Homo sapiens: one gene and its partners. The protein of the gene in region 4 purifies or fractionates together with the protein of the main gene of each other region. This does not show direct contact. Each region holds a gene or a part of one and is shown on either strand. Other genes may lie near its edges. The genes, in order: POPDC2, PLEKHM2, FBXO15, ABCB1 and UBA7.

Region 1 (6,034 bases), on a different chromosome or scaffold from region 4:
GTGCCTCTGCACTACCAATGCCTGCTCCTGAAGGAAGGTTTGTGAGGGTGAATTTCTCAAAGTCACTTCAGGTCCTTACTGTAGCGACAGTGTTGGCACCTTCTGTGTCCTCTCTCACCTTGCCTGTGAGCCTTCCAGTGGGTGGGAAAAGAGGCATGCCTATCAGTGGCCATTCTGTGAACACAGAAGAGAGCTGCGCTGGCCACAGAGAAGATAGTCCAATGATCCTTAAAGTTCAGGCGTGTGGGTTGGAGCCAAAGGGGCCTGTCCCCTGGATATAACTTGAGAGTAGCTCTGGAGAGGAATTCTAGAAGCTGTGGAAAGAAAAAGAGGGAGGATTTTAGCACTATGTCTCTGGACAGTTTGTCTAACTTCAAAGGGTTCTTTTCAGTTTTTTTCTTTCCTTTACCAATTCCCAATGTTTTAACTGTACTCACTGCCTGACATGATAGGGGCAGGTGTACCTTCGAATCATTTCATACTAGAATATTAGGGCAAGTCAGCTTTGAAGGTATCTAGCCCAATCCTCTCCTATTGTAGAGACCAAGAGATCAACTTTTGTTGCTTCCTATGAACGTTCTATAGAACTCTACTTCTTACCTAACCCTATCTAATTTAAAGAAAAAAACCAAAAGCCTGTATTGAATAATGGTAAGTTTCATAAGACTCCTGACTTTCATTTTTACAGAAAGATGGGTAGGAAAATGAGGCCTGTAAGACAGAAGTGGAAACATGACTCAGGAGCAGCCCCAGGCTGCTGTTATCCAGAGGGCAGGTGGGGAACTGCTGCCTCTAACTTACCTGACCGACAATGGAACCTGTGGCAGGTAGAGGTGGCACGACCCTCTAGAGACCCCTGCTCTGGCCGTGCCACTTTCAAGAGCAAGTTTTCCGAGCCAGGACTCTTTCCAGTAGTTCTGTGAGAAAAGCACTGTTTGCTAGCACTGACAGCTACCAAAAACCTTACAGCTGCTTCTGAGGGGAAGAGCATGATGACAGTGTGACTCTAATCTGCCTCCTCCCAAACAGATGAAGGAGAGCAGGCTGACATGTGACTTAGCTATTCAGGGGCTAAAGAGCTAGCACATGTTTTCTTTAGGCCTCCACTTTTTGCTGTACCTTTTGTTGTCAGGGGATTCTGCCAGCTGCCACCTTCCCTGAAAAGCCAAACTGGTGGAAATAAGAGGGAAAATCATCTATCTCTGATAAAAGAAAGAGAAAGAAAGAGAGAGAGACTGCTAAACAATTGTACATACAACAGAATCTTAAAATACGCTACACATTTAACTAGTGCTTCAGAGCTTAAAAACTGCCTTTATGTATTTTATCACAATCACGCCTCACAGCAACCCGGTAAGGTAGACAGAGCCATCTTGGTCCTGTCCTGCAGATGAGGAACATGTTCTTGATGGCAGGTGAGTGGCAAGACTAGAGTCCAGATCTTAGAAACACAGAATCCTAGAGTTAGAAGTTACCCTGACACAATAATCCAAGGCATCCTTTTCCCAGAGCATGAATCACCTTATAAAATCCCTGAGATTTCTTATGGCCCCTGCTTGAACTCTTCCAGTGATGAGTAACTCTCACCACCCATGAGCAATCCAGTATCAATACTGAGCTAAAATCCTTCTTATAACTTTCAGCCTATTCAATTCAATTTCTGCCCACAAGAACTACACCAAATTAAGTCAAATTCTAATTTACATTCTTTCTAAAATTTGAAGATATTACACTTGCCCTTTTCTTGCAGATAAAACATTTTCAGTTCTTTCAACTACTTATCATGTGATTACCTAGAACCATGCCTAAAATATATAGTAAATAGTGTTTATTGAATCGTTTCTCTTGCCCTTGGTACTATGTCCTGATCCTCCTGTCGAGGGGCTCCTTCCCTTACCTCGAGTGTCCTCAATTTTGTAATCTGTTCATCATTTGCTTATTTAAATAATAGGGAGAAAAGAAACAGTATAGTTTTCAGAACAATGTGAAACAAAATAAAAATTGTCCAAATGTCAGACAGCTTTCAATTTATTTTGTGATAATGGATTCATTATTTCACTCAACAGACTACCTCGGAGCTGCATTTCTAGAAGATAAGTCCCTCATTCATTGAGCATCTCCTGTAATAAGACACAGAATGGATCCCTGTGGAGAGTGGCCATCGAATTAAACAGAAAAATTCTAGTGAAGGGAGGGATGATTTGGGGTCTGGCTGGAAGACCCTGCATGAATACATTATCCTGCAGCATAGTTTTGCCTATTAAGAGAAGCAGCACCCATTTTTTGTTCAATTTTGGGTACCACCAGACTAAAAAACATATGTCTCTTCAAAAAGGAGCTCCAGAGGAAACTCTGACTATTTTCAGTTGGTCTTAATTTGGATTGGTGTGAGAGACAAGCACTGGTGTCAATGTGATGAGGCTGTGTCATTCCTAATGATGCAGAATTCAGCCAGCTTCATGCCTCTCATATAAGTGCTGTGCCGGGATGAATAGCAATGAGCTTAACATTTTGATAACTAAAGAGCCAGGAAATAGATGGTGAATGGTGCCCTACTTTATGAAAGAAATAATAGTAAATTGCTCCCAATTAAGGGAATATGCTTATTCATTAGAGTAATAACCTTATAGCAAGTTTGATGGTAAATAAGTCAAATCAAACATTCAAAACACAATTTCAGAAAAAGAACTGAGGCTAAATTATCCCATGATCACAGACTACATTGAAAACTATCAGAAGTTTGGCTAATTTGATCATGTTTTCAAGTTGTTCTGAAAACCTCTATGGCCTGAAAAGTAAACGACATAAGTTTCCTTTCTCTCTATTGCTTAAACAAAGAAACATGAAAAACTATTCTCCCTATATTGCAAATTCCGGTATTTTAGAAAGTGAGCCTCATCAGCAGTTTTCTCATCTTGAGTTTTAGAAAAGGCTGAATTTGGAAAGAGGCATTTCATACGATAGTATGTATTAAGGGTTGAGGGCTTGGGGACTGAGTTGTGATCTCCTCTCTCATAAAATATCCGCACTGTAGGCCGGGCGCAGTGGCTCACGCCCGTAATCCCAGCACTTTGGGAGCCCGAGGCGGGCGGATCACCACGTCAGGAGATGGAGACCATCCTGGCTAACACGGTGAAACCCTGTCTCTACTAAAAATAGAAAAAATTAGCCAGGCACGGTGGCGGGCGCCTATAGTCCCAGCTACTCGGGAGGCTGAGGCAGGAGAATGGCGGTGAACCCGGGAGGCGGAGCTTGCAGTGAGCCGAGATCGCGCCACTGCGCTGCAGCCTGGGTGACAAAGCGAGACTCCGTCTCAAACAAAAAAAAAAAAAAAAAGAAAGAAAAAGAAAAGGAAAAGGAAAAAAAAATCTGCACTGTAATCACATGGTAGGTGATAGATTCTTCACAGGCATAGAATGGAGGGAACTGCTAGTTAAACAAGACCCACCACCACAAGGGCTGAGGAGAGTCCCAAGGTGCCAGAGAAATTGTAGTGAAATATCACAGAGAGTTCTTGCTGAAAGACACTCAGATGTCCTGGGGCTTGTGTCTACTGTACTGCGGACTGACTACTCCTCTTTTCTTCCTTTGAAAAACTTATCCTTGCCTTCTCAGATCAATCCAAGGGGGTTCCTGGGGACAGCTGGTCCAACACGCTCAAATGAAGAAAGTAAGGTTTAGTGAGGTATGGTTTGCAAAAAGTCACATATTTGATTAGTAGCAAAGCCAGACATAGAAGCCAGGACTTTGGACTCCCAGTCCTGGCCTCTTTCTCATTTACCATGCTGCCTGCCTCCTGATGTTTGGAAAACATTCCTAAAGCTGGGGATTTTACACCTTCACTTGAATGGTTTTCTTTATAGGCAGAGGGAAAAGTACTGATCTTTGGAAGAGTTAGGATTAAAAACTAATAAGATGGGGGTACAGGGTGTTTAGGAGGAAGAATAGATACAGCAAGGCAAAAAAGGTGGGAAAAAGAAAAAAGGAGGTAATAGGAGAGATAAATATATGAACAATAAAATGGAAGAAAACAAGAGACAAGTGAAGAGGGAGAAATGAACTGAGAAGACATAGAAAATGGACACTTAAGAGCAGCAAACTGGCCAGGCATGGTGGCTCATGCCTGTAATCCTAACACTTCGGGAGACCAAGGCAGGAGGATTATTTGAGCCCAGGAGTTCGAGAACAACCTGGGCAACATGGGGAGAGTTTGTCTCTACAAAAAAATTTAAAAATTAAACATTATCCAGGCACAGCGACATGTGCCTGTAATCCCTGTTACTTGGGAGGCTGGGATGGGAGGATCGCTTGAGCTTTTGGAGGTAGAGATTGCAGTGAGCCGACATCATGCCACTGCACTCCATCCTGAGTGACAGAGTGAGACCCTGTCTCAAGAAAGAAAAGGAAAAAAGAACAGAACATCAAACTGAGGCAATCAAGGACTGAGAAGAAATTGGAGAAGAAAGAAGAGAAAAATAGAACCAAGAAAAGAGAAGAAAACCAGGAAGAACAACATGAGAAAACAGAGAGCTGCTGTGAGTCGAAGAGAGAGTGTATAGGTGGATGGGCAAGTTGGACCAAGAGGGATCCATAGGACATAAGGAGCATGCGTGGATGCAGGATGAACGAGTAGGAAGGCGAACAGCTGCACAGAGGGAAAGGAGTGATCAGAGTTGTCAATGCACACTTCGGGGAACTCAACAAAGTGATCTGGGGTGTTAGATTGATCCTTGGAATTACCTCAGAATGAGCTGAACTATGGTTCTAAGGATGCTGGTAACACAGGAGATTGTAAATTCCATATCTACAAAACTAAATCTCTAACCTTTCATCAGTCATCTCTATGGCCTCTTTCATCATTTATATAACCTGTTTTTCAAAATAGACAAACATTCACTCATTCATTTCATGTACTCTGGAGGCCTTCCTCACTGGGCTAGTTTCTCAGGTAATTTATTGGTGCTTTCTGAAGAACCATGGGAGGCGCCTTCCAAATTGGGAACAATGGGATTTTCCTCAGGAAATTCAGGCCTACATCATGGTTGGGTGGAGTTACAGAGAAAAACATCACAGTATTATGAGGGCAGCCAGGGAAACATGAGAGCAATTTCCCAGAACCACTGGGCACAGCCTTTCTTGTAGACTCTCTGGGAGGGAAATTCTGTGAGGGAAATCCTGCACGCACTGTTAGGCCCTCCAGGATTTATGCACATCCTACCTCCCACAGGTGTGGGTGACTGGGGAAAGCCAGGCTGCCATATACCTATCTGATCATAGTAACATTTAATCATAGCAGTATCTAGTCCTCTGTCTGTGTGATCAACAAACACATTCTCCACTGGGTGAGAGGAAAGCAAGATGAGGACATTTTCCTCCCCGAGCTATTAGCTCATAATCACAATCCTCTTTAAAATATGCAGTTTTAACAGAGATGCCTGCCCAGTCTAGGCTAAATAACAACTGCTTTCCAGGACGGGCTCTGTATCAGGAAAGACAAGCAATCAGAATTAGAACCCTGCCACATTCTTTTTCTTTTAAAATGCATGCCACAAATAAAAGCCCCTTAAGCCCCAGCTGTGGCCTCAGCTATTAGAATAAACTTGCAAAAAAACAGCAATCTACCTTCCTGCTCAACGTATCAACCAGCCCACTTTCTAAAATGCAATCAAGTTAATAACGAATGAGTTTTTAAAATCCCTTCATGCCTTGCATGCACCCGGAGTGAGTTGCTATCTTCAAAGTTGGGTTAATGCCACTTTCTGTGAGTCCTCTAAGAGGAAATGTTCCACGAATGATTTTTTTTGCCCTAACAAGCTGAGTTAAGGCCAGCCATTGACAGGAATGTGCAGCGGCTGCCTTCTGAGTACTTACATAGGATCCTGAGCCGGTGGCTGTGCCCATGTTAGTTCTCCCTTCACCTCATGTACTCCCCATCACTCCTATAATCCATAAACGATTCTGATCCTGACACCTCCTCAAAATCCTCCAGCACCAGACTGGTGGAGTCCTCACCCAGTATGCCACTGTCTGGCCT
Region 2 (6,034 bases), on a different chromosome or scaffold from region 4:
CTCCCTCCTCCTGGGGGGAGGCAAGCATAGTGTCTGGCGAGTCCCGCCCAAGGCTTGGGCTGCCGTTGCGGCTGTCACCGTCCCCCTGCTTGGCACATTTCTTCTGGCTGCAGGCGGGGTGGAGTGGACTTGCCTCCTCATCTGATCTGCTCTTTTTCTTCTTGCCAATTTTCTTCTTCTTGGTGACCCTGGGACAGTAACGACGGGGAGAGTGTTAACCCCTGAGTAGTCCAGTGCTGAGGAAAACCAGGCTGGGTCACGGTGGCAATGCTGGCCATGTAGCCTCTGAGGGCACAGCTAGTGCGTCAGTGGTCCTAGGCAGTGCTGGGTGGAGGCACTGGGTCAGAGGACAACAGTGGCTCAGGCCCCGAGGCACCCCCTTTGCTGGCAGGGGCGGGGTGGGGGTAGCATGGGCTGGGCACAGATGGCTGCAGCCAGAGGAACCCCAGAGTGGGTCTACTGAATTCCTCCTAATGGAACAGCTGAGCTAGCTGCACTCTAGGAAAGAAAAACAGGCCATGGCTGGTCAGGCAATGCCCCCTCCACTCAGCCCCCCTTCGGATGTGGATCCCGAGCTGACCTCACTTCCCTCAGGCATCATCATGGAGGAATCACCCAGAAAGCACTCAGCGCTTTCTGGGCTCACGCTCCGGGTCCCACTCTGGTTCCAGGTTGGCTGGAGCGGGCTTAGCTAAGGGACCCCAGGTCTGAGCATGATGCTGCTGTGGACTGGAACCAGCCCATGGGGTGGCCTCCTGGCTCCAGTCACTGGGGAGCAATCCCCCGCCTCAGGCCAGCAAGCCTGGGCAGTCTGACACGCACACAGGGCTTCTCCTCTTAGTCAGTGTGAAGTTTTAAGAGGGGGTCGGGGAGGTCAGGGAGCCGGGGAGGCTCTGGTTGACAGTCCCTGCTGGCCACCCACCATGTCCTTCCTTTCCATGTCCTGCCCATATGACAAAGATACTTTTCTTTCAATGAATCTCAGAAATTGTATCTTAACTTCCAAGAACTCCCTTGGGAAGAAGTACAGCCTGAAGGTGCTTTCTGATCTTAGGCAGACCCAGCAAACGCCCTGGCAGCCTGGACATGGCCCCAGACACCAGCCACGGTCGCTGCCTGTGCCACCTGCTTCCAAGGGCTTGAGCCCTACAATGGAGTGAATGTGTGTGTCCCCTCCAGATTCCTGTGTTGAAATCCTAACTCCCAATGTGATGGTATCAGGGGGTGGGGGGTGATGAGGTCCTGAGGGTGGGATCCTCAGGAATGGGATCAGCACCCTCATAAAAGGGACCCTAGAGAGCTCTCTCTCCACTCCCCGCCACAACACAGCGAGAAGAGGGACATCTGTGAATCCCTCATCAGAGGCTGGCCACACCGGCACCCTGACCTCGGACTGTAGGCTCCAGAGCTGTGAGAAAGAATGTCTGTTGTGGAAGCCGCCTGTCTGCGGTGCTTTGTTCCAGCAGCCGAGCTGACTAGGACAGGCCTCCACTTCCTCTTGCTCAAAGAACCTCCTAGAGGTGGGAAGGGTTTCCAGGAAGGCATGCAACTGCCCTCAGGGGGTGTCCCGGTCTGCCCTGGATGAACAGCTGATGCTGGGAGTGGACAGGTTGGACCCCAGGACCTCAGCTCCTTTCTGGGCCCCTCCCTGCTGACCTGATGACCTCGAGCTCCGTGCAGGCATCCGGCGGGTCCAGGGCCTGGGCCTCCTCCTTCTCCTGAGAGGTGGTGTGCACGGGGGTGGTGTCAGAGGAGGACACAGTCTCTGCCGGCTCCTCGTTGAAGGGGTTCTGGCGCTGGGTGGGGCTCCTGGTGGAGGCCTTGCTGCTGGTCAGGTCGGAGGCTGTGGAGCGGGGACCACTGACCGTGTCTGTGAGGTCTCCATCTGGGAGGACAAGGAAGCAGGAGACACCCTGTCAGGCACCCCCCGGGGTCCCCGACCCCCAGAGCATGCGTTAGCCCAGGAGGGAGGCAGGCTGGCCAGTTCCTCCCAGGGAAACCTGACAGGGGTGGCCCCATTTCGAGTAGAAGCCACAACCTAACAGGACATGGGGTTTTGTACTTTAGGAGCAACTTGGAAGGAACACCATCTCCACCACCCCTGGGGCCTCCGGAGCTCACAACAATTTGGCTGAGTTTGTGTTAAGGGCCCCCGCGGTGAAGCAGCCTCCAGGCTCAAGCTCCAGGCTTAAGTCCCATAGGAATGGTGACTTCGAGGCCTCCATGGGTGGCTGGGAGCCCTAGAGAGGAGCCAGGCTGCACGCCTCTTAGGTTACCCTCAGAGCCTTCCTGCCAGGACGCTACAGGGGTACCCAGCAGCCCCGTTAGCCCCATACCCCACTTGTAGGGCTGAGAGGTGCCCAAAGTCCTCTGAAGGGTCCCTTGCAGAGGTAAAAGGAACACAAAGGGAGAAGAATGGAGGAAGACAGCAGAGAAAGTGAGGGGTGCAGAGTGGGGGCAGAGGCTAGGAGACAGGATGGGAGCCCAAGGGGTGGGAACCATGGGGCAGAGGGAAATGCCCAGAGCACAGAGTAGAGACAAGATGACAGAGCAGGGCAATGAGAGCAAGGTGCGAAGGGGCAAAGACAGGGGTCCGAGAGGCCGCCCCCCAGGCTGCTTCTCCCCAGCACCCCTGACCCTACACACTCCTCGGGGGCAGGACCAGGTGCCCCTGCAAGGGTGGTGCTGAGAACTCCATTTCTTTCTTTTTTTTTTTTTTTGAGACGGAGTCTCTCTCTGTCGCCAGGCTGAAGCGCAGTGGCGCGAGCCCGGCTCACTACAACCTCCAACTCCCGGGTTCAAGTGATTCTCCTGCCTTAGCCTCCCGAGTAGCTAGGATTACAGGCATGCGCCACCATGCCCAGCTAATTTTTGTATTTTTAGTAGAGCTGGGGTTTCACCATGTTGGCCAGGATGGTCTCGATCTCCTGACCTCGTGATCTGCCCGCCTCGGCCTCCCAAAATGCTGGGATTACAGGCGTGAGCCACCGTGCCCGGCCGAGAACTCCATTTCATTCAAGTGTCAGCTCACTGACTGGTCCTTTCTGACTCATACCCTGACACGGCCCCCGAGAGGGGAGCTGGCTTGGACATCCCGCCCCACCCAGCCATCTGCCCCTGGTTACTGGAACAGGGCAGGAGAGGGAGCACGGGCAGGTGAAGCACACAGCCCATACGGCCAGTGGCAGATGGGAGCCACCCAAGCAGAGAGCTGAGGCCCAGCTGGTGAAACTGCCTGGGTGAGGGTCAATGGCAAGGGCCATGGCTGGTCGTGCTCTATTTGCCGGCCAATGCTCATCTTGCTGGCCGCTGTCTGCCCGGAAGAAAAGAGGCAAACATGCACCCCACAGCCCCACTGGGGGCCCAACCAGCTGTCAACTTAGTGCCCTTGGAAGCCACAGGGCAGCTGTCTGCTGATGCAGCACACCGTCCTTTTTTTTTTTTTTTTTTTTTTTTTGAGACAGGGTCTCGCTGTGTCGCTCGGACTGGAGCGCAGTGGCGCAATCACAGCTCACTGTAGCCTCGACCTCCTGGGTTCAAGTGATCCTCCTGCCCTGCCTCAGCCCACAGAGTAGCTGGGACTATAGGCGTGCACCACCAAGCCTGGCTAATTTTTATATTTTTAGTAGAGACGGGGTCCCCCTGTGTTGCCCAGGTTGGTCTCAAACTCCTGGGCTCAGGCGATCCTCCAGCCTCAGCCTCTCAAAGTGCTGGGATTACAGGTGTGAGCCTGGCCCTTTTTTTTTTTTTTTAAGTCTGCTGTCTTTTAATATAAGGACAAAAGAGGAGGCTAAAGGCAATGAGTAGCTCTGCCAGAAAAGACCAGCAACATCGGGGACTTTTTCCAGATTTCCGGGGATCTCAGAGCCTAAGTTCTAAGATACAGAAAACCGCGTCTCTCGGTCCCAAAGCAGGCTCCTGCCAAGCCCATGTGTTCTTGCTCCGGCTCCTGTGATTCTCCTCAGCACACGCAGTTGCACCCAAGAGGAGCCCTGAGAGGTGAGTGGGCAGATCATGAGATGTGGTGGGTGTCAAGGCCCGCATGCCCACCAGCTCTGTAAATAAGCCAAAGACCAGGGGAAGGCCACCCCAGGCTCAGAGTTTGGAGCTGCCCCAAGTCCTGCCTTCCTCCAGGTCCAAGGAGAAGACAGAGCCTCCCCGGGTGAGCTGCCAGAGTGAGCTCAGGAATCCTGCTCCAGGAACTCCAGAAATCTCACCCTGCCCTGAGGCAAGCAGTGCAACTGGGCTGTTAGTTCTCAGGCCGCAGGGAGCTCTGAAAGGCTGTAGAGGAAGGTCAGGCCCTGCTTGTCAAGTGACTGCAGCAGGCGTGTCAGGAGGGGGGTTAGTTGTTAGAATCGGAGGGAAAAAAAAACAATATCCAGCATGTGTGCTGCAAGAAGAGGGGCTAAGAGGGTACATGATGTTATGATGGAATTCTGGAATCCAAGCTAATTTAACTCAAACAGGGGACCCTTCAATGCTACTCTTGGCCAAGTGTCATAGTTTATTTTTCCCAATGCCACATCTTATTTCTCACAGAGTTAAGGTATTTCATACTCACATTATCTGGGAACGGATCACCTGTCACCCATTACTCAGCAATCACGTCTCTAATAATGCGGGGAGAGCCACGTGCCCCTCATCCTCAGGGTGTGGCAGTTCTCACCTCCCCTGTTCAGAGGCCAGGTTCCCTCACCTCCCCTGTTCCAGGCTGGAAGTGGCCCAGAGGGTAGGAGGCTCTTTAATAACAGGGATTTGGACCAGGTGCAGTGGTTCATGCCTGTAATCCCACACTTTGAGAGGATGAGGTGGGGTGGATCACCTGAGGTCAGGAGTTTGAGACCAGCCTGGCCAACATGGTGAAACCCTGTCTCTACTAAAAATACAAAAATTAGCCGGGCGTGGTGGCACACACCTGTAATCCCAGCTACTTGGGAGGCTGAGGCAGGAGAATTGCTTGAACCCGGGAGGTGGAGGTTACAGTAAGCCAAGATCACACCACTGCACTCCAGCCTGAGCAACAGAGCGAGACTCCGTCTCAAAAAGTAAAATAAAATAACATAAAGTAAAATAACAGGGATCTGCTATGGCCTCAGATTTAAGGGGGAAACATTCACCTTATTGGCAACATAGCCTTTGCTTTGAGTAATCGTGGCAACCTGGGAATAGCTTTGTGAATTTATGAAGTGGAATTTCAGGCAGAAAAATGCCCAGGCACTGCTACTGCCCAGCAGACAGGGTGGGAGGGCTGGCAGATTTCCTTTTAATCTGCTTTAAAGCTTCAAAGAGATTCTGTCTGTAGGAAGTTTCAGCTGTACCTGGGCAGTTTCCTGACTTGGACCTCAACCACTCCAAAACACCCAAGAGGAAGCCATTAGGAACAGACTGAAAGAATCAAGCTCTTTCTCTTCGATGCTCATCTGACCCGCAGGAGCTTACAACCCGCATGTTTAAAGGCATGGTTTTCCAGAACAAGTCTTGGTTCACTGGGTCAGGCCCTACACACCCCGAGAGCATCAGCTGGCACTGGAATCAGGAAGGGTGACCCTGTATCCCCCGAAATGCAGCCACTTAGTGACTCCGAAAGGCCACTGAGCAAAGGCAGGAGCCCTGCACTGGGAGAAGGGATTTGCCTATGGCTAGAGGTTGAGTTTTCCCACTGCAGAATTCCATCTATTAGAACACCAAACTTGGCTTTATTATGATTATGGATATTATTATAAATAATAAGGAGCTGATTTGATACATGCAGCAAGCTTGGCATGGAAACATTGCAAAACAGGAAAAGAGGGTAACAGCGGACTCTGGCCCACCTTCCCAGTCTGTGCTGGGTACAGACGGCACTGCTGGAAACACATCTCCAAAATCATAATCTACAAAAACGAGGGACAAAACTGAAGATTAGAAACACAGGCAGTGGAAGGATGACTGGAGGGAGGGGAGGGGAAATGGGGTGGGAGACATGGGGAGAAAATAGGAGAGGAAAACTTCAACTTTCTACATTGTATCCAACAACCTTGGGGAAACTTACTAG
Region 3 (6,034 bases), on a different chromosome or scaffold from region 4:
AAGTGACTGCTCTTCCTTTAAGGAGGCAGCCATCTAACTGATCTCCCCACTCATTCGCCATATTCAGAAGACAAACCTTTACAAAACATGAGTCTGAGCATATCACCCTGAGACAACTTTCCACGGCTCTCAAGAAAGAACCAAATTCCTTCCGGCTACCATTAAGGCCTGACCTGGCCTCATCCGCCCATCCCACCTCATTGCACACATCTTGCCATCTGTGCTCCAGCCACACTGACCCTTCACCCTTGAACACACCATGCCCCCAGCTGACAAAGAGCCACCCAAGCTCCCCTGCTGAGAGATCCTCTTCCCATCTTCTCTTTGTCCATCTCAGCATTCAGTTCGAATACCAGTCCCTTGAGGAAGTTTCCCTGATACTCTCATCTCAACTGACCATGTACCCAATGGGCAGAAACACCAGTGTGTTGAATGCAGAACTTGATACAGCTGCAGTGCTGAAACTGACTCGGCCCGGCCAGTGCAGGTAGAGATGGATGCTAAGCACCAAGAGGGCAGGACTTAGGCCAGCTTGGTTCAGCATCGTGCCCCTGGCCACCTGCATATGCACACAGTCACTGAAGCTCAACCACTATGTGCTGAATGAATGAATGAGTGTGATAAAATGAGAGGGAGGTGGTAAGAGTAGTGATGGAGGTGCTGGTTGTTATTAAACACTAAGGTAGGACAGCAGGAGCCCTAATGCATCAGGGGCAGCAAACACCAGGAAAGAAGAGATGGGTGAAGAAGCAGCCAGCATGAAACACACTAATCCCTGATGGGAGAGTGCACGCCAGAGCCTAAGGCCCCTCACATCAGATGAGCTACACAGTGAGACCACCCAGGAACCCCTCAGACACCTGACCTTGCTCCCTGATGCCTTTCCCAGGCAATCGGCTGCAGTGGTCCTGGAACAGCAGCGACCAGCCCCACACAGCCTGTTCCACAGCACCCACTGCTTCCTGCATGACAGGGACCACCACACACAGAGCCTGGGCTGCGAGGAGGACACCAGAGTGGGGAGCAGGTGGGGAATAAGAAAAAACACCCTACACTGCAGCCTCACTGAGGCTGAGAATGGGGGAGTTGAAGCCAATACTGAGGGCCAGCAGATGGCTCTGTCTTTGGCAGGCAGCCGGAGCCCTCCTGGAATGGGCATTACCACTGTGGCCGTTTTAGAGAGAAGGCTCTGAGGTCTAAGCACCTCTGAGATAACACAGCAGGTGGGACTGCATGGTGCATCCATCTTCCACACCCCACCACCCTGCACGACCTTAGCCACTGGGCTAGCAGTCACTTGACTGTGTTACTTACAACCTCACCAAACCCACCAGCATAGAGATGGTGGTTAGATCCTATGGGAGGAAGGAGGTGGAGCCCTGGGTCCCATCACCTGCGAGAAGGTTGAGGAGGAGAAACCCTGGCAGAAGTCAGGAAGGAGCGGCCGGTGGGGCACAAGGGCTCCTTGGTGAGGACGCTGCTCACAGCCCTAAGCCGTCGGTGGGTGTCTCAGTCTTTCTGCTCTCCCACCTCCTCTGCTGCCAGATCAAGAGCTGGGAGCTGACTCTCCTCTGAAGCCCTCCTAGTTCTCAAAGTCCAGCATTCTCCAATTCCCTCCTAACCTAAAACATGGCCTAGCACACGATAGGCACATCAAACTCTTTAACAACATCCACAGATACACCAAAATCCAAATTCTTTCCTGAGGGTTTCAAGGCCCCCCCCCGACCTGCCCCAGCAGCCTTTCCAATGCCCCCCAGTCACTGTCCCTCCTGTCCCCGGGTGCTAGCCCACCCCAGGCAGGACAGCCAGCTAGGAAGAGGCCCGCCTCAGCACCAGCCGCAGCGGCACAGTGGGTCTCGCACCCCTCCCCGGGCCAGCTGCCCCTCACCTCTAGAAGCTCGCTCCTTATTTCCCATCCTGTCCGAAGCATCTCTTTCTCCACTGGGTTCCTTCTCCAGAATAAATCACTCCCAACCTTCTGGGGGGGGATGCATGTCAGAACCTCTCATGAGCCTTCCTCCCACTGGCCCCTTTCCTCTTTCTCCTCACAGAACTTGTTTTCAATCATCCCTCTCCTAAATCAGTCCCTCTCACCCTGAACGTCCAGGAGGCACACATCTGAGCAGTCGGCAGACCTCACCCTCCTTGCAGGAGGAAGTCTCTCCTCACCTGCGCTCCCATGGACCAGTGAACTACGCCAGGCTCAAAACTCAGTGTCTGGGGAGAGTGCAGCACTCGCACGTGTGGGACTGTTCTGTTCTTCCTGCGATTTTCGGTTGTATCAGCACCAGCAGCCTTAATCACCCATGCAGCTGCAGTGCTTGTCAAGTGAAGTGGCCAGGATGCCTTTCTCATGGGCCACGGCCACCCACAACATGCTGACCCACGATGTACCCACAGCAGGCTCTACTGAACTCAGCTGTTCTTACATAAAGCAGAACCACAGAACTACACTGAAATATCTAGTCTAAATAAAAATTGATGCCAATCTCCATATAGATTTAGAAGTAACATTAAAATAACATCAAAAATGCCAAGGAGTGAAAGAAAAACATAAAAGAAACATACGGGAAAAGCCTCACCAAAAGAAAATCCATCCATCTGAAATTCTGATAGGCGCTGGGAGGAGACAGAGCAGGAGAGTATTTCACTTTGATTACTTGACTTATGCTGAAGACTGCAGCAAGGTTACCTTGAGAGGGTAGCCTAGCTGTTTCAACATGACTTTGTAAAATAGCATGGTAACCACTTACAGAGCAAGCGTCCTGCATGGATTCAGTACTAACACGTGGCCACTGAAAGCATCTTTAAATGAAAAGTTCTGGAGATTAGACAGTAGTGATGGTTATACAACAATGAGAAGGTATGTAAGCCACTGAAATATAGAAGTCAAGTGGTGAAGGTGGTAAATTTTATGTTTATTTTACCACAATTAAAATACAGCTCATTCATAATATTATTGTAATAATTATCAGTATCTTTTGAGTTTTTTAAAAAAAGAATAAAAAACTGACCTACTTAGAATGTGATTTTTAAAGAATTTTAAAGTTTAATAATTTACCACATAAACTTATGATCTGTTGAGTTTTTGCTCTAGGAACTCAAACTAAAGATACTTTCCACCTGAATTACCTCCACACCAGTAAGTGTTGGAGGTCACTCAACTCTGAGGTTGGAGGAAGACGGAGATTCTCATGGGAACAGCAGGTCCCAAGGACATCAGATGTCCTTTCACGACTGCACATCACTTCAACCAACACGACACAACTAGGCAGCATCCTCCGTCATTATCATTAATATTTTCTCACTTCTTTGTCCTTCCACCAGCATCGTATTTGGGTGACGTACTTTCTCAGTAGCCTATGCTCTGACAGGCATCGTAAACTATTTAGTAGAAGCTCCTCACCAGAGGTTGTGTCTACAATTTCCAGAAGGAGCCGGGTTTTTATTTTACATTTTTTTAAAAGTCATATGTACCTAAGAAACTTTCTAAGCTTATGTCCATGCTTTAAAAAAAAAGTTTTTAACTCCTTCCAAGCAATTTCTTAAAATAAATGTTATCATTTCACTATTCTTAGGGTGATCAGATTCCTGGAGAGAAATACCTGAGCTGCACAGCAAATACAAGACATATGACATCACTGATCTGACTTTTTATTCTTTTGGGAATTCTGAGGACGGCTTAGTCTTAATACTGAATCCAAGAGCATAAAAGGCAAACAGAAAATAAACCACATCTACCCTCCAGGCCCAAGGGAGAAGGTACAAGCTTTTGAGCTATCTGCTATCTTTTCCCAAAGCCCATCTGAGAGAAGGAATTTATGGGGAAAACTGTCCAGGGACATGCAATCCATTCTCTACTTTAAAAACTCAAAATCCTGCTTTCAGATCAAGCTGTTTTTCTAAACACCTGTGCACCTCAGTCACATTGGTTTAGCAACCTACAGAATCACTGCTTGGAGCTCATGTAAAGGTCCAATTTTGAAGCCGTATCTTCAGCTTCTCTGAGAACTTCTATGAGAAATCTGTGAGTGCATCTGCTGCTAAGATGCTATTCAGGGTGGGTCCATTATGTAGCTTAGTCTGCCCTACATAAAGTCCCATTGGAAATTTTGTTTTTAATGATCAGAACTGGGATAAAGCTTTCTTTGTATAATTACTACATTTCCCTTTTTTCTCCCAATGAGAACTAAATGACTGCTCTCATCTTTCTCTGGACTACCAGAAAACACAGAACAAATTATTTTTAAAAATTATGCTGACCCTTTAAAAGACAGTCACATTCACATTCTGCCTTTCTTGATCCTCAAGGTCTATTTTGACGTGAATATTTTATCTTAGTACCTACTTTTATTATAGGCTTTATTGAAATCTGAAGAAAAAGAAAGAAGGTAGGTCTGTGCTCTTAAAGGCATGAAACAACATGGTGTGTGATAAACATCATTTTTACCAAAACTTAAACATTTGCTATGAATAAATAGGATTTGTAAAATATCTCATTGCATCAAATATCAAGTGGCTCAAGGGACAGTGCTTCATGATAACACCACTCTTGGTCCCAGTCGTCATCATTAATAGTTCTAACAAGGTGCGCATGCATAGCGCCGTATAAAGCCATGTTACAGGAGGCCCCCGCAGTCACAGGAGATTGATCCCACTGGTCCCTGGGACAATGAAAATCTTGTTCATCCCATAAAATAAAGTTGGAGAGTGACAAGAACCAGGAGCAGCCATGGGCACAAGGACAGAAGAAAGCAAAACTGTGAGAACATCTTTCTCCTCTTCCTCCTCCTCCCTCCTTCCCTGCTACTTCCCAACCACTAAGTCAACTCTCCCACCCATGTGGCTAATCTTTATTTAACAGTTCAAGGAAATCCCTATATCCTGGACTAAGAATTTATAACTGCAATAAGTTTTAAATTGGTACATGGATGATCAAGATGTTTTGAGTAGATGCTGCCTGCGTGGTCCAACCTTCAGTTCCACTCTCTTTCCACAAAACAGAGGGGCTTTGAGAGAGTAGGGGACTGTGATCAACAGTGTTCTGAAATGCTGCTGCAGACTACCTGCCCCTCCAACTCCACCATACTCAGTGACAAATGAAAGGTACTCAATAAGCATCTCATGAGTGAATCCACTGGCTGTCAATGGCTAACAGAATGTGCACCAACCTTCAGAAACCAGAACAATAAATCCAGAACTATAAAAGAAACATCATACATATATGACAATATAATTTATATATATAAACAGACTTTTTATTATATAGAAATCAAGTTACTTGAAGAAAAGAAAACGGTTCTGTTTTTACCTTTATACAGCCATCAAAAATATCAGTTTTCCACGAGAGGCCAACTTTTCCAATAAGAGGTAGGTGTTCTCTGTTATTTTTTAAATGTATAACAATGAGCTTCACATGTCCATTTTCAATATTTCCTGAAAAGATATAAGATTGTTTCAATCACTGTCTTCCAGTGCAAGATGACAAACCAAGCACGTTCAGTCGGCGACTTTATAAGGATACCTCACCCTGGTAAGCCCTGGCCTCAGCGATGAGGGCAACATGGGCACAGCAATCCCAGCCTCTGGCTTGAGGCCAGAGTGATGCATCTGTGTCCCAGAGGCAGAAACATTAACAAGTGCCCAGAAAGGTGATGTCAAAGGTGAGTCAGGGGAAGCTGGCTGAGGCGAGCCTGGATAGCCACCTGTCACTGATGGAAAGGTGGTCGCTGAAGGAGGAAAGGGTTCTTCTGATGTGGGTAAGCCAACAGTGTTGGAAACCGATATCTAGAATTACACAGCTGAAGAAAGCAGGTGCAGAAATGGCAAAGAAACAAGGGGCTGGAGAGCAGGCGAACATGAAGAGGAGTGGAAGAAACTCACATGAAATAAACCAACACCTCTGCACATGCTTGTAACTGAGTGAGAGTCCGTGCACATGCCCACCTAGCTGGAGGCCAAACCCTGGCCCTCTGCTGCCAGCTCCAAGCCAGCTACTGGCAGCCTGGCCACACGGAGGAGCCCTCGCACC
Region 4 (6,034 bases):
ATCACACCTGACTAATTTTTTTTATTTTTTCTAGAGACAGGGTCTCGCTACGTGTCCCAGCCTGGTCTCCTGGCCTCAAGCAATCCTCCTGCCTCAGCCTGCAAAAGTGCTGGGATCACAGGCATGGGCCACCACACCCAGCCAAGAGTAAATTTCAAATGTGTCACCTCAAAAGGTGTCAAGTGAGGAGATAGATATGTTAATTAGCTTGCTCTGATCACTCCACATTTTGTGTGTATGTGTGTGTATACATAAACATCACATTGTATTCCGTAAGTGTAATGCAATTATGATTTGTCAATTAAAAATAGCATAAAATTTTTTTAAAAAAATTTTAAGACAAGGTCTTGCTTTGTTGCCCAGCCTGGACTGCAGTGGTGCAATCTTGGCTCACTGCAACTTCAACCTCTGGGTTCAGACAACCCTCTCACCTCAGTCTCCGAAGTAGCTGGGACTACAGACAAGTGCCACCATATCTGGCTAATTAAAAAAAAAAATTATAGAGATGAGATCTCACTATGTTGCCCATACTAAAAATATTTTGGAAATATAAATACTTTTCAATTTAGAATGCAGAATTAGTCTTACTTGCTCAATAAACAATGATTTAAATTTCACAGGGCTAGAATATTATAATAGGATATTTTTATATTTCTTCAATGTCTAGTTTTTTTTTTATTTAGATCATCAGTAAGGTAAAGTGGAAATAAATGCTAGCAGAGGAGTCAGAAGACCCAGTTCTGAATCCTAAATTAGTAATAACTAGTTATATGTTGTTAGGCCATTCTCTTAGAATCTTTGGCTTCAATTTCTTCATTGGCAAAAACAGGCAAGATTCTATCTGTTCTCCCTACCCAGCAATCATAGAGATGTTGTATCATGATAAAACAGTGTATATGAACATTTTTTGTTAATTATAAAGCACACACACCTAAGACACTGATCCTTTATCAGGTTGTCTTTTTTGCCACAAGGCCGTGTTCTCTTTAGGCCTTTTGTTTTTTTGTTTTGTGCAAATCAGTTTCTTATTGGTAAAGACTTAACTGTGTTTCTCTTTGGGGTTGATGAGAATTAATGTCATTATTCATTTTTTCTAAATCACATGGAATTATATTGCTCAATAATTTACACAGAAGGAACTTTGCTAAGTGATTCTATATTCATTATCTCAGTTAGTCCTCAAAACACGCTGAAAGTTAGGGTTCATTCCTGTCATATCATTTGGCAGAAGAGGTAGCAGAGGCTTGAAAAGTTTAGCTGGCTGCCCTAAATCATACAGCTAATAAGTGACAAAGCTGCCATTTGAATCAAGTTGGTCCGATATCAAACCCCACACTCCCTATTTTGGATGCCTCCAGTGTGTGAAGTATATTCATGCCCAGTGAACACTGGATTTAAACTGCTTATCTCAATCACAGTTAAACAGAAAACATCTGTTATGACAACCAAGGATCACCCACAGCATCACTATACTAAAAAAAAAAAACTTCATGGGAAAAGCCATTCCCCACTGAGCAATGTTGGATAAGGCAAATTTGAAAAAAAAAGAAAAAGAAGTGATTATTGAATCCATATTACAAATCTGGCTCCTGAAAAAGGGAATTGTTTTAAGGGATTCTACAAAATATCATCTCTCATTGCCTCAATCTATTTCTGCTTGGCCTACGAAAAAGGAACTAAGTGACTCTTCTAACAGTGTATTTTATTAGATCCAGATATGAATTGAGTTTGGTTTGCAAATTATTTCATTGTCTTTAAAATAAAAGAGGATAACATTAAATGGCAAGACTTCTGTGCTTGCACAAAGGTCTATAATGCAGAAAACTTCCAAACAATCTTTTAGGAAGAGGAACAATTTATACTTCCATAATTTGTGAGGTGGATTAGCTGCCATTCGAAATAATTTGAAAAGAAGTCAAAATGTGTATTTTGCCATTTTTGTGAATAGTAAATCAGAAAATAAAAGTGAAGTGTTTAGCAACAAGTTTGGCACAAATAATCTCAACAAATAAAAGTTCATGCTATTGAGATTGCTAACGTTAATATTATTTAGGCTACAGGATAAATTGTGCAAGATATCTGCAAAAACAAACAAGCAAATAAAAGAAAAAACTGGTTGTCGGATGCATCTAATTTTTTTCCACTTTTTTTTTTTTTTTTTTTTTTTGAGACAGTCTTGCTGTGTCACCCAGGCTGCGGTGCAGTGGCGCAATCTCAGGTCACTGCAAGCTCCGCCTCCCGGGTTAACGCCATTCTCTTGCCTCAGCCTCCTGAGTAGCTGGGACTACAGGCGCCCGCCACCACGCCCGGCTAATTTTTTGTATTTTTTGTAGAGACGGGGTTTCACCATGTTAGCCAGGATGGTCTCGATCTCCTGACCTCGTGATCTGCCTGCCTCGGCCTCCCAAAGTGCTGGGATTACAGGTGTGAGCCACCGTGCCTGGCCTTCCACTTTTTAACCTAGTAGTGCATATGTCTGTAGTATTCAACAGTTGTTCAAAATATATTCTTCTAAAGTCAAGCCAACATTACTGGATTTCATTGGCATTTTATAATAATGGTTCATTTCTCAATGTAAACCACTTACAGTGAGTACTTGTCCAATAGAATATTCCCCTGAGAGGACCAAGGTGGTCCCATACCAGAAGGCCAGAGCATAAGATGCATAGATCAGCAGGAAAGCAGCACCTATAGAAATATTGGCTGTAATAGCTTTCTTTATCCCAATTCTTTTAGCTTCTTCTAAATTTTTGTTGTACCTGAGAAAAAGAACAAAAATGATCACATATACATTTTATGAAAACATGTCGATATAGCATGATAGTTACAGAGTGGCTAGGATGTGTTCAGTCCTGTGATATACATGCATTTTGTCCTGCTGCTCATACATTGACCCTATATAGTAGTACTGTTTTACTCCCTTTTTGCAGAAGAAGAAACTGACATTTATAGAGATTAACTTATTTGTGGGGGAGTCTTCTAAAATTTCCTTCTCTGGCTTTAGCAATAGCAAATAAGTGAAGCAATATTTAGCAAACTTCTAAAACTTACATTGTTTCATACACAAGACAAAGTAAAAGCCATGGAAAAAACCTGTGTCTTTCCTTCAAAATCTGCATGCCTCTTTAATTAATAAAATGGAGAGATAATGTTAGAAAGTACTAAAAAAAAAAAAAAGGGACAGTCATTTAAATCTCTGAACATTAAGGAAGTTTGGAGACAGTTTGCTCTCTGTCCTGCCTTCCTCTAGGACTGTCGGAATGACCAACTGAGAGGTTACATGTGTGAGAGCATTTTGAGAGTTCTGAATTGCCATGTAATACTTTTTACATTTAAATAAGCTGTACAATTTATCTTACTTCCGTAGACATTTATTTTAAAAATCACTGACCTACAAAAATTATTTGGCTTACAGGTTTATAAAAGCACATCATTATTCATCAGCATTCCCTCTCTTCCTTCTCCTTTCTACATATTGACTATGTGTCCTTCCCTCTATTAATGCTCCCAACACTTGTCATGCCATAGCTGCCAGCTGCTGAACTAACAGGATCTGACCTGGTGGCTTGGGCCATCCACGGCTTCTGACTAACTCAAGGGCTGAGAAAAATTAAATTATTAGCATATCTATAGCCCTGAACCCATTCATAGCACAAAGGCCTACCCTACATTAACCAAACCTGGTGAGGACCCATTAATACTTCTTAGAGCAAATATAGGAAATTGTACAAAAGGGGCAAAAATGAGCAAATGAAAAAAAATCGAAAAACAATGTTGGAGTCACTGACAGATTTTATTTCTGCAGTTCTAATGACTTACAGGTTATTCCCAACTGATAATTCAAATATTTTTTAAACCCTCAGAGGGTGGTCAATTTTTGACGGTAAAGTTAAAGGAGATGATGTCTATAACTCGACCTTCATTTGAAAGGAACAGAGAAGACTACTCTGTTTAAGAGGATAGCTATGGAGATAAGCTAATGGAGCCCAGAGTTAAAGAAAAATAAGGAATTTTGCAAATGTAGAACCAAGGTAAAAGGATTAGAGAAACAGGACAGATTGCCTTAAATCTGTCTGTATTTTCTTAATCGCAACTCCCTGCAGAACCTAGAGCATTGCCTTGGATAGAGGAGGAGCTAATAATTGTTGAAATTCATGAACTTACTTCCATATAAAAGTCATACTTTAAGGTCTTTGATCCATAAATTCACAACTATATAAATATTATATAGCATTATATTAATTTCCTTTGGAGAACTTGTTCCATTAGCATGTACAGCAGAGCTCAAGCACTGTCCAGATATGAACATGCATTGTTTCTTGCTTTCATGACTACTTTAACTAGGTACATTACAGAGTTACAAAAGCATGCCAAGTGAAATTTACATCACTACCGTGTTCACTAAAGATGAAATTTAAACAGAACTTCATAGTGACAACATAGCAACACATCATTAGTTTCTACCCCCCAAAATGTAAATCCTCAACTTGCCAGTTATCATCTGAACAGAAAAATTATTTTTGAGAAACGTTTCAATTATTTATATACACATATGCACACACACACAACACACAGACACATACATATCTCTCACTTTATGAGTTGATCTGAGGTAAAAGCTACCACTGGGCATAACTTACATAAGAATATATTTAAGGACATTTAATACATATGTACTATACTCTGTTATCTCCTTTATTTCAGTTCTCGCTTACCAAGACTAACGTAGAAACCAGTCTGATGTTGTCCTATGCAGCCAGAGGAAACATTTGCACAGAAGCACAAGGAAGAAAATCATTTAGACATCAGAAAGGAGAAATAAAGGAAAGAAGGGGGCAAAGGGAAATGAGATATAAACAATACTCCTTTTCCATAAGCTCTTTGTTGTTTTTCCATACAAATGCCATACATAAAACTAGATATTAAAATCATCCATTCATCAAAGGCTTTAGTACAGAAATGGTCATGAAAGTAGGAATGACTAAAAGAGACTAAAGTTATATAACAAAACCATTGGTATGTAGGAAATATGACTCTTCTTAAATATTGTGAAAATATTTATCAATAATGCAAGTAACTACTTTAAGAATAAGGAACAATTTTGGTTAAGCCAACAGAAATAAATATTAATAGATAAATATATTTTCAAGGCACATAAAAGAGAGAAAAATATTTTTAAGTGAAAAGGAACAAAACTATTCTATACGATTGAATGGAATTTATTTTAACTTCTGGTTAAATTTCCATTCAAAGAGAGCCAGCTTCCCTCCTGCACTGCTAATTTGAAGAGAAAGCCAGATTAAGACCTCAATTACTTTATGTAGAAGCAGAGAAGGGAAGGAGAAGAACAGGAAAGAAAACTGATTATGTCTGGTCTAAGAATAGTCATCAATTCTACTTTCAAGTTATATCCCAAATCTAGGTACCTGTCACCCCTCTCCTGCCTCTGCTCCAGATCAGGGAGATGCTCTGGCCTGGACCATTCTGCCGGCCTCCCCACTGGTCTCCCTGCTTCCACCCTTTGACTTCTCGCATCCATTCATGAGACCCATTACAGACAAACAATCTGAAAACATAACGTGGATAGTCATTCCTCTTTTTAACACCCTCAACCACTCCCCTGTGCCCTTAGAATACAATCCTAACTCTTCATCATGGCCCATCATCCCCACATTCTGGCCCCTGCCCACCCCAATCTCCCCTCATTCAACTGAGCTTCAGTCATGCAAGCCTTATGACGTTTCCTAGAACATACTAAATTCTTGGCCACCCCAGGAAACTTGGAAGACTCTTCTTCAAACCCATCCCATCTCTGTTCCCACCATGGCTTGCTTTTTCTCATCCCTCAGGTCTCAGCTGAGATGAAACCTCCTCAAAGAGGCCTGCCCCAACCACCGTATTTAAAGTTAACTTGACCATTCATCATCCTCACACTCTTTGATTCTTTCAGATCACATTTTTAAATCAATATTTTTATTTTTTTCTTTGACGATTCCTTATATTTCTTCCTCCCTTTCTCCATTCCTTCCATTTT
Region 5 (5,656 bases), on a different chromosome or scaffold from region 4:
GGCTGCCTTGTCACAGCTCATAGTGCAGAGGTGGGAAGGCAGTGTCCTCGTCGTCACCCTCACAGCTCAGCTCTAGCACCAACACCCGCTGCCCAGGAGCAGGTGCCTGGCCTGTCAGCTGCTGAACCAGTTCTGTCACCCTGGTAGGGGTGGGTTTAGGGGAGATTGGAGAGGTGAGCCATGGCAAGCAGAAGGCAGCCTGGCATGGACTAGAGAGGGTGCTGGCAGGCCGTCAGGAGCCCAAGCCAGGAGCAGGAGCTGCTCAAGACAGGAAACATCTGAAACTATTTTAGGAGCAGCTGATGAGGCAAGCAGGAGGCAGGAAGCTATGGGTCCCTTGGGAGTGGGCTGTGAAAGGGGGGCTGTGCAGCATGTGGGGAGCCCATGGGGCTGGCCAAATAGGCAGCTCCTGAAGACTCCTCCTCAGGCTCTCGGCCCTCACCCCACCTCCAGCCTGTTTGCTGGCTCCATTTGGGGAAAGAATGCTTGGGAAGGTGTGAGGGGCCCAGAATGGGGCTGGGAAGACAAAAGGCAGTGTGGTCCCTAGCCCCAGCCTCCAGGGACTGGTGGGGCCTGTCTAAAGCCCCAAGTGGGCTCACCTGAGGGGCAGGTGCTGGGCCTGCTTTTCAGGTGACCATCCGGCCGCATAGAGCAGGGCTGAGCCGTGCAGCAGGATCCTCACCCTCAACCCGTGCTGCTCCTAGAGGAGAAAGGTCAGACACCAGCTGGGCCGGGCTGGGCTGAGCCTGGGGGTTGGGGTAGCAACAGGGCACACCTGAAGATGAGCCAGCAGCGACTCCAGGGTCCTCTCAGGCTGCCCAGCTGGTACCTTCAGACGGTCCCAAGAGGTCCACTTCAGGTGATGGAACTGGGATGAGGTAGAGGAGGAGTCAGAGACTTCTTACCTCCCCCCAACCCCCATCCCAGTTACCAGCAGCCTTTCCTAGGGGAAGAGCTGGACTAGCAGGAAACAGGAGCCAGGGGGTGGGGGGTGGGGGGGAGGTGGGATCTGGGCCCAGAGTCTCAGCCCCCTCCCCGTCCAGGCCGGGGCCAGCACAGGAAATGGGGCTATGGGGCCCGCACAGGGAAACAGACGATCCATCACATGGGCCAGTTGTGAGAGTGGGGGATGAGGGGGTGGTGCTTCCTGAGGAAACCCAGAGCAGGGCCCCTGCAGCCTCTGATAAAGCTGCTTGTTCCTCAAAGACAAGGCTGGGAGCTGGGGGGCACATCCTGTCCCCCAATCTTGTATGTACTGCCAGTGCCTTGGGCTACTCATTGGGACACAGGGGCAAAGGGCACAGTGACCACCAGGGCCCCACTGTCCCAGAGACCCCAGCAGGGATACAATGCATAGAGGCTTCCTCCTCCTGTCCCTTCCTTCCTTCCAAGAGTCTTGGGGTTCTGGGACCTAGAGCTAAGGACAGAAGGATGGCTGGCAGGTATCTAGAGACCAGGACAGGGGGTGCTTATCAGCCCCTGAGAAAACACACTGGGGTCAAGCTGAGACTAGGCTAGAGGTGAGATGGGGGCTTCTCCTTCACCTGCTTCACTCTGTGGACAAAGGCAGCCTGTATGCTGGTTAGAGGCAGGGTGCCTCACAAAGGGGCTCTGTGTGCTAGTCCAGAGGGACCCCAGGCTGCTCAGCAGAAACCCAGTGCTGGCCCATGACCTCTGCCCTCTCCCCTCATGAGGGCATTCCTTCTACCCTCATCCTTGCCCCAAGGAAATGCCAACTGCAGAGCCTGGGCACAAGGCTGGAGGCATTCACAGCGCTGCAGTCACAGGAACACAAATGCCCACAAGCCCAGGAACACACACATGTGTGCCCACATGCATCTCCATGCATGCCCACATTGAGGACACAGGAAGATGGGAGCCCTGCACTCCCATCTGATGCACAGATGTGCAAACTTGCTCCTTCCATACCCACACTCCGGGGATGCCCAGACCCCAGTTGCACTCACAACTGTGACACAAATACACTCAGGGCTGCAGACCCCACACCTCTAGTGGCAAGCCTATTACCTTTTAACTCAGCTTGTAGGAGGTAGGCCAGGGCCCCCGTACCATGCAGGGGGAAGCTAGACTCTTTCTGGGGCTGATGCCCTGGTCCCCTCCCCACTACCTACCCCTCAGGGGTACTCCAAGGAAGGAGGGGACTGTGGGGGATGTCTGGCTCCACTAATGAGTTAAAGCTGCAGCTCCCCCAGATCCTGGGCTTTGGAGGATTGGGGGTGGGGATGGCTGACGGCTGCTTCCTGTGTCTGACAGGTCCCAGCCTGGCTTCATAGCAGGAAGAGGGCTGGAGGGAGTCTTCAGGACTTCTGCACAGTCTGAGTTTCAGTGAGAGCCGGCAGCTAGATTGGGGCCTGTATGGGCAGGTGCAGGGGAAACCCAGGCCTAGTAGGGCTAAGGGTGGGGTATCATGGGCTCACCGTCTGGATGGCTGGGGCAAAAGGCATATAGCGGATGAGGTAGTTTTCAGCCAGATGTAGGTAGCTGTGGCGAAAGGCACTACGAGGCCGTGGCCCACTCACCACCTTATACAGCTCCAGGCCCAACAGGCCTGCCACAGCTGCTGTAGTGGTGGCAATGGCTGGGATAATCTGGCCCACAATTCGCTTGCTCTGCCAAGGACAAGAGATTTGGTCTGGGCCCAAGGCGTAGGGCCAGGGTTTGCCCTCCACCTCCAGGCCCAAGCCTCAAGGGGTGGGGTTACCTGGGCACGGTTGACCGGTGGAATCCCGTAGTTCTGACATCTCAGGCTAGCTGCCGCTACCACAAAGTCCACATGGAAGTTGCTGTCATCATCCTGTAAGGCCCAAGTCAAAGTAGTGTTAACACTGCAGCTGTGCCCCTCACCGTGGCCCACTGCGTGTCACTGCACAAGTCTCCACACAGTTCTGTCGGGGGGTTGCCCCACATCTCCTCTTGATCAGACAGGCTGAGGTTCAGGGAATGTGAGCTGCTTCCAGGGTCTTGCTGGGAGAATTCAGGCCAAGGGGCTCCAAAACTACCTTATTAGCTCCTGACCTTTCTCCACAAACTCCCCAGCCCCACTCCTCACTGCCACTTGGGCACCCACCTTCTCAAACATCAGAGGCTTCAGGGGAGGGCCCACACTCCAGACTTCCAGGGCTTTGTTCAGTTCCTTCTGCTGCTCAGGGCCTGTCAGGGGAGGGGATGTTGAGGCAGTCCTTAGCCCCTGTCTCCTGCACTCTTCTTGGAGCCCTGTGCCTATTCTTGGTCTTTGCCAAGCCTGTCACTTACTATTCCCTGATCAAATCAAGAAGCCCCCTTAATTAATGCTACAATCTCCCCTCTAGAAGCCCCAGTCTTCACCCATGTGTGCTCATGACCTCTGTGACCCTGTCCTCACCTGCAGGCCATAGCTAGACACTCCCCAGGAACCAATGGACTTTATTTATTTACTTATTTATTTTGCCAAGAATCTGCCACAAGAACTGGGATGTGGGGTAGGCAGCAGGGAGAAGACCTACTGAGGGACCAGAGGATAAGCCTGAAACTATGGAGGAGTGAGGTTAGGAGGCCTGAGAGGTAGCAAATTGGCTGTAGATCCCCTAGGCCCTATCTTCCTTCTGCAGCACAGGCTGAGGACAGGACAGGTTCAGGCCTTTGAAAGACAGCATGAGGGGCCAGGGCCAGGAGCCTCACCAAACTCAGCAGAAGCCGAAGCCAGCTCTAGATTACTAGCAAAGATGGGGGCCATCTGTTGGGGGTCAGGCTGTGGCAGCAGCTTCAGCAGCTCCCTGAGTGCAGTCCAGTCCTGTGAGCCAGGCAGCCCATGCATCTGGGCATACAGGTTGGCAGCTGCCAGTACGTAGAGGAGGTGTGTGTCCTGCAGCCAGACCAAGAGCAGGAACAGAGGCATGGGTGCATGGGGTGGGGGTCACTGTCCATTTGTGGATCTGTTTGAGTGCCTGCCTTTGCCTCACATGTAGACACCCATATATGCACAAGCATGGCTCTCTCTGGGCATCTGTGCATCTCTGCAGAATGCAGAAATGCCTACCTCTGCTCTGAGGGGCCACATCTCTATCTTGGAGCTCCCTACAGAATCCCACTCACTTGGTTGGTGTCAAACTCCAAGGGCTGGGGACACTGTTTGGGACCTGACCAGAAGGGAGTTCCATCCTCAAGCACCTAGGTAGGTAAGTAGAAGCTGCTGGGCTCAGTCTGGTCCCCCTGAGCCCCCAGCGTCCCAACCCCTAGCCACACACTTTATTAGGTGGGAAGTGCCTCAGCAGCTGTTTGATGCCATAATGAAAGCAGAGTTTCCAGTGGCCAAGAGCCCACGCCACACAGTCTTGCCAGTTCTGTGGACGCACTCTCAGGACCCCAAGCACTGGCTTCAGTAAGGTGAGTGTCTGTGGCTCATCCATGTCTGCCAGGGAAGTGTGTGCCCTGCAGAGAGAGGAGGAAGTGTGAGACTGAGTCCTGCAGACTCATGCTTGGAGCCCTGGACTCCCATCTGCCTCTGTTGGTGGCCTTACTGTTGGTGGTGGTTGATGGTCTCTGCAGACAGTCGGAAGAGTTCTTCAAACTCATGCCGGGCCCACTGTGGAGGAGGGAGGAAGAATGAGGTATCAGGTGGAGAACAGGTCTGCAGCTGAGGGCTGAGCTGGGTGGGGTGGGAGTCTCCAGGGTGCTTCCTACCTGCAGGGTGTGCTCGGCTGTGCTAGGGAAGTACCGCACGGTACAGACAGGGTAGGGGGCATCCTCAGAAGCTGCAGCTGAGGCAGGGGCTCTGTAGGCCTCAGTCACATGTGGCATGAATACTGTAGCACTGCCCCAGGTGCCCGATGTGCCTGCCTCCAGCAGTGGCTTCAGATAGTGGGTGCAACGAGCAGCCACATAGCGCCCTGGCAAGGGAGCAGTGGGTCAGAAGTGGGACTGGCACAGCTGTGGGCAAGGGACTGACCTCCGAAGTCAAGCACTCACGGGCCTGGAAACTGTCCAGGGCAGCAGCCACACCATCCACACGGGAGAAAAAGTTATCCCCATAGATGTGCTCTGTGGTGGGATCCAGTGGGTAGGTGAGCGGGATCACCTGTAAGTCTGGGTTCAGGCCCCGGGCAGCTGCTGCAGCCACCTCTGCCTTGGGTCTCTGGGAAGAAGGCAGGAAGATGTTGGGTGGGAAGCTGTATGGGAGGACGGTCTGGGATGCAGGAGTGTGGAGAGGGGTCAGCACTCACACCAACGTCCTGGGACCTGAAGAGGAACTGACGGCTGAGATTGGAGCGCTCTATGTGGTCCATGTCAACAACAGTCAAGCCCCCGCTGTTCCCGGCCCCCAGTCCCACTAGGGCAAAGACTTTGAGCAGCTCACAACCAATGGCACCAGCGCCCACCTGTTGGCAGGAACAGCCTTAGCCAGAGGGGCTGGGCTGGCTCTCCCAAAGGCACCCCCAGTCTCACCCCACAGCTCACCAGGAGGTAGTGCTGGCGTCTCAGTTTCTCCTGAAAACCAGCCCCAAACACTGCAATTTGCCCATCATAGCGGCTGCCTCTCTAGGGGACAGAGACGGGGTCAGTGATGGCTACTGGCCTGCATCTCCTTCTTATACTGAGTTTTCTGAATCAGGACCTGGAGGGCATTCCTCATGCTTCTCCCCTAGTCCTGATTTTGGAC

The links.
Region 1: the proteins of ABCB1 (region 4) and POPDC2 purify together in Homo sapiens (co-immunoprecipitation; one large-scale study listed by IntAct). This does not show direct contact.
Region 2: the proteins of ABCB1 (region 4) and PLEKHM2 fractionate together in Homo sapiens (co-fractionation; one large-scale study listed by BioGRID). This does not show direct contact.
Region 3: the proteins of ABCB1 (region 4) and FBXO15 purify together in Homo sapiens (affinity purification with western blotting; one study listed by BioGRID). This does not show direct contact.
Region 5: the proteins of ABCB1 (region 4) and UBA7 purify together in Homo sapiens (affinity purification with western blotting, with the first as the bait; one study listed by BioGRID). This does not show direct contact.

The regions. Positions count from the first base shown.
Region 1 is NC_000003.12:119,642,248-119,648,281, forward strand, and holds part of POPDC2 (popeye domain-containing protein 2), read right to left. Parts: coding exon 5,915-6,034; 3' UTR 5,872-5,914; intron 1,203-5,871; coding exon of another isoform or gene 1,129-1,202; exon of another isoform or gene 1,120-1,128; intron 315-1,119; coding exon of another isoform or gene 229-314; 3' UTR 1-228. UniProt on the Homo sapiens protein: Important for the maintenance of cardiac function.
Region 2 is NC_000001.11:15,721,168-15,727,201, reverse strand, and holds part of PLEKHM2 (pleckstrin homology domain-containing family M member 2), read right to left. Parts: intron 5,874-6,034; coding exon 5,814-5,873; intron 1,886-5,813; coding exon 1,657-1,885; intron 189-1,656; coding exon 1-188. UniProt on the Homo sapiens protein: Plays a role in lysosomes movement and localization at the cell periphery acting as an effector of ARL8B.
Region 3 is NC_000018.10:74,076,613-74,082,646, forward strand, and holds part of FBXO15 (F-box only protein 15), read right to left. Parts: intron 5,440-6,034; coding exon 5,315-5,439; intron 1-5,314. UniProt on the Homo sapiens protein: Substrate-recognition component of the SCF (SKP1-CUL1-F-box protein)-type E3 ubiquitin ligase complex.
Region 4 is NC_000007.14:87,551,174-87,557,207, forward strand, and holds part of ABCB1 (ATP-dependent translocase ABCB1), read right to left. Parts: intron 2,760-6,034; coding exon 2,588-2,759; intron 1-2,587. UniProt on the Homo sapiens protein: Translocates drugs and phospholipids across the membrane. Catalyzes the flop of phospholipids from the cytoplasmic to the exoplasmic leaflet of the apical membrane.
Region 5 is NC_000003.12:49,805,298-49,810,953, forward strand, and holds part of UBA7 (ubiquitin-like modifier-activating enzyme 7), read right to left. Parts: intron 5,536-5,656; coding exon 5,455-5,535; intron 5,376-5,454; coding exon 5,220-5,375; intron 5,132-5,219; coding exon 4,966-5,131; intron 4,887-4,965; coding exon 4,681-4,886; intron 4,583-4,680; coding exon 4,518-4,582; intron 4,429-4,517; coding exon 4,245-4,428; intron 4,168-4,244; coding exon 4,093-4,167; intron 3,863-4,092; coding exon 3,679-3,862; intron 3,172-3,678; coding exon 3,089-3,171; intron 2,816-3,088; coding exon 2,723-2,815; intron 2,631-2,722; coding exon 2,439-2,630; intron 949-2,438; exon of another isoform or gene 869-948; coding exon 776-868; intron 701-775; coding exon 600-700; intron 141-599; coding exon 11-140; 3' UTR 1-10. UniProt on the Homo sapiens protein: E1-activating enzyme that catalyzes the covalent conjugation of the ubiquitin-like protein product of ISG15 to additional interferon stimulated proteins (ISGs) as well as other cellular proteins such as P53 in a process termed protein ISGylation.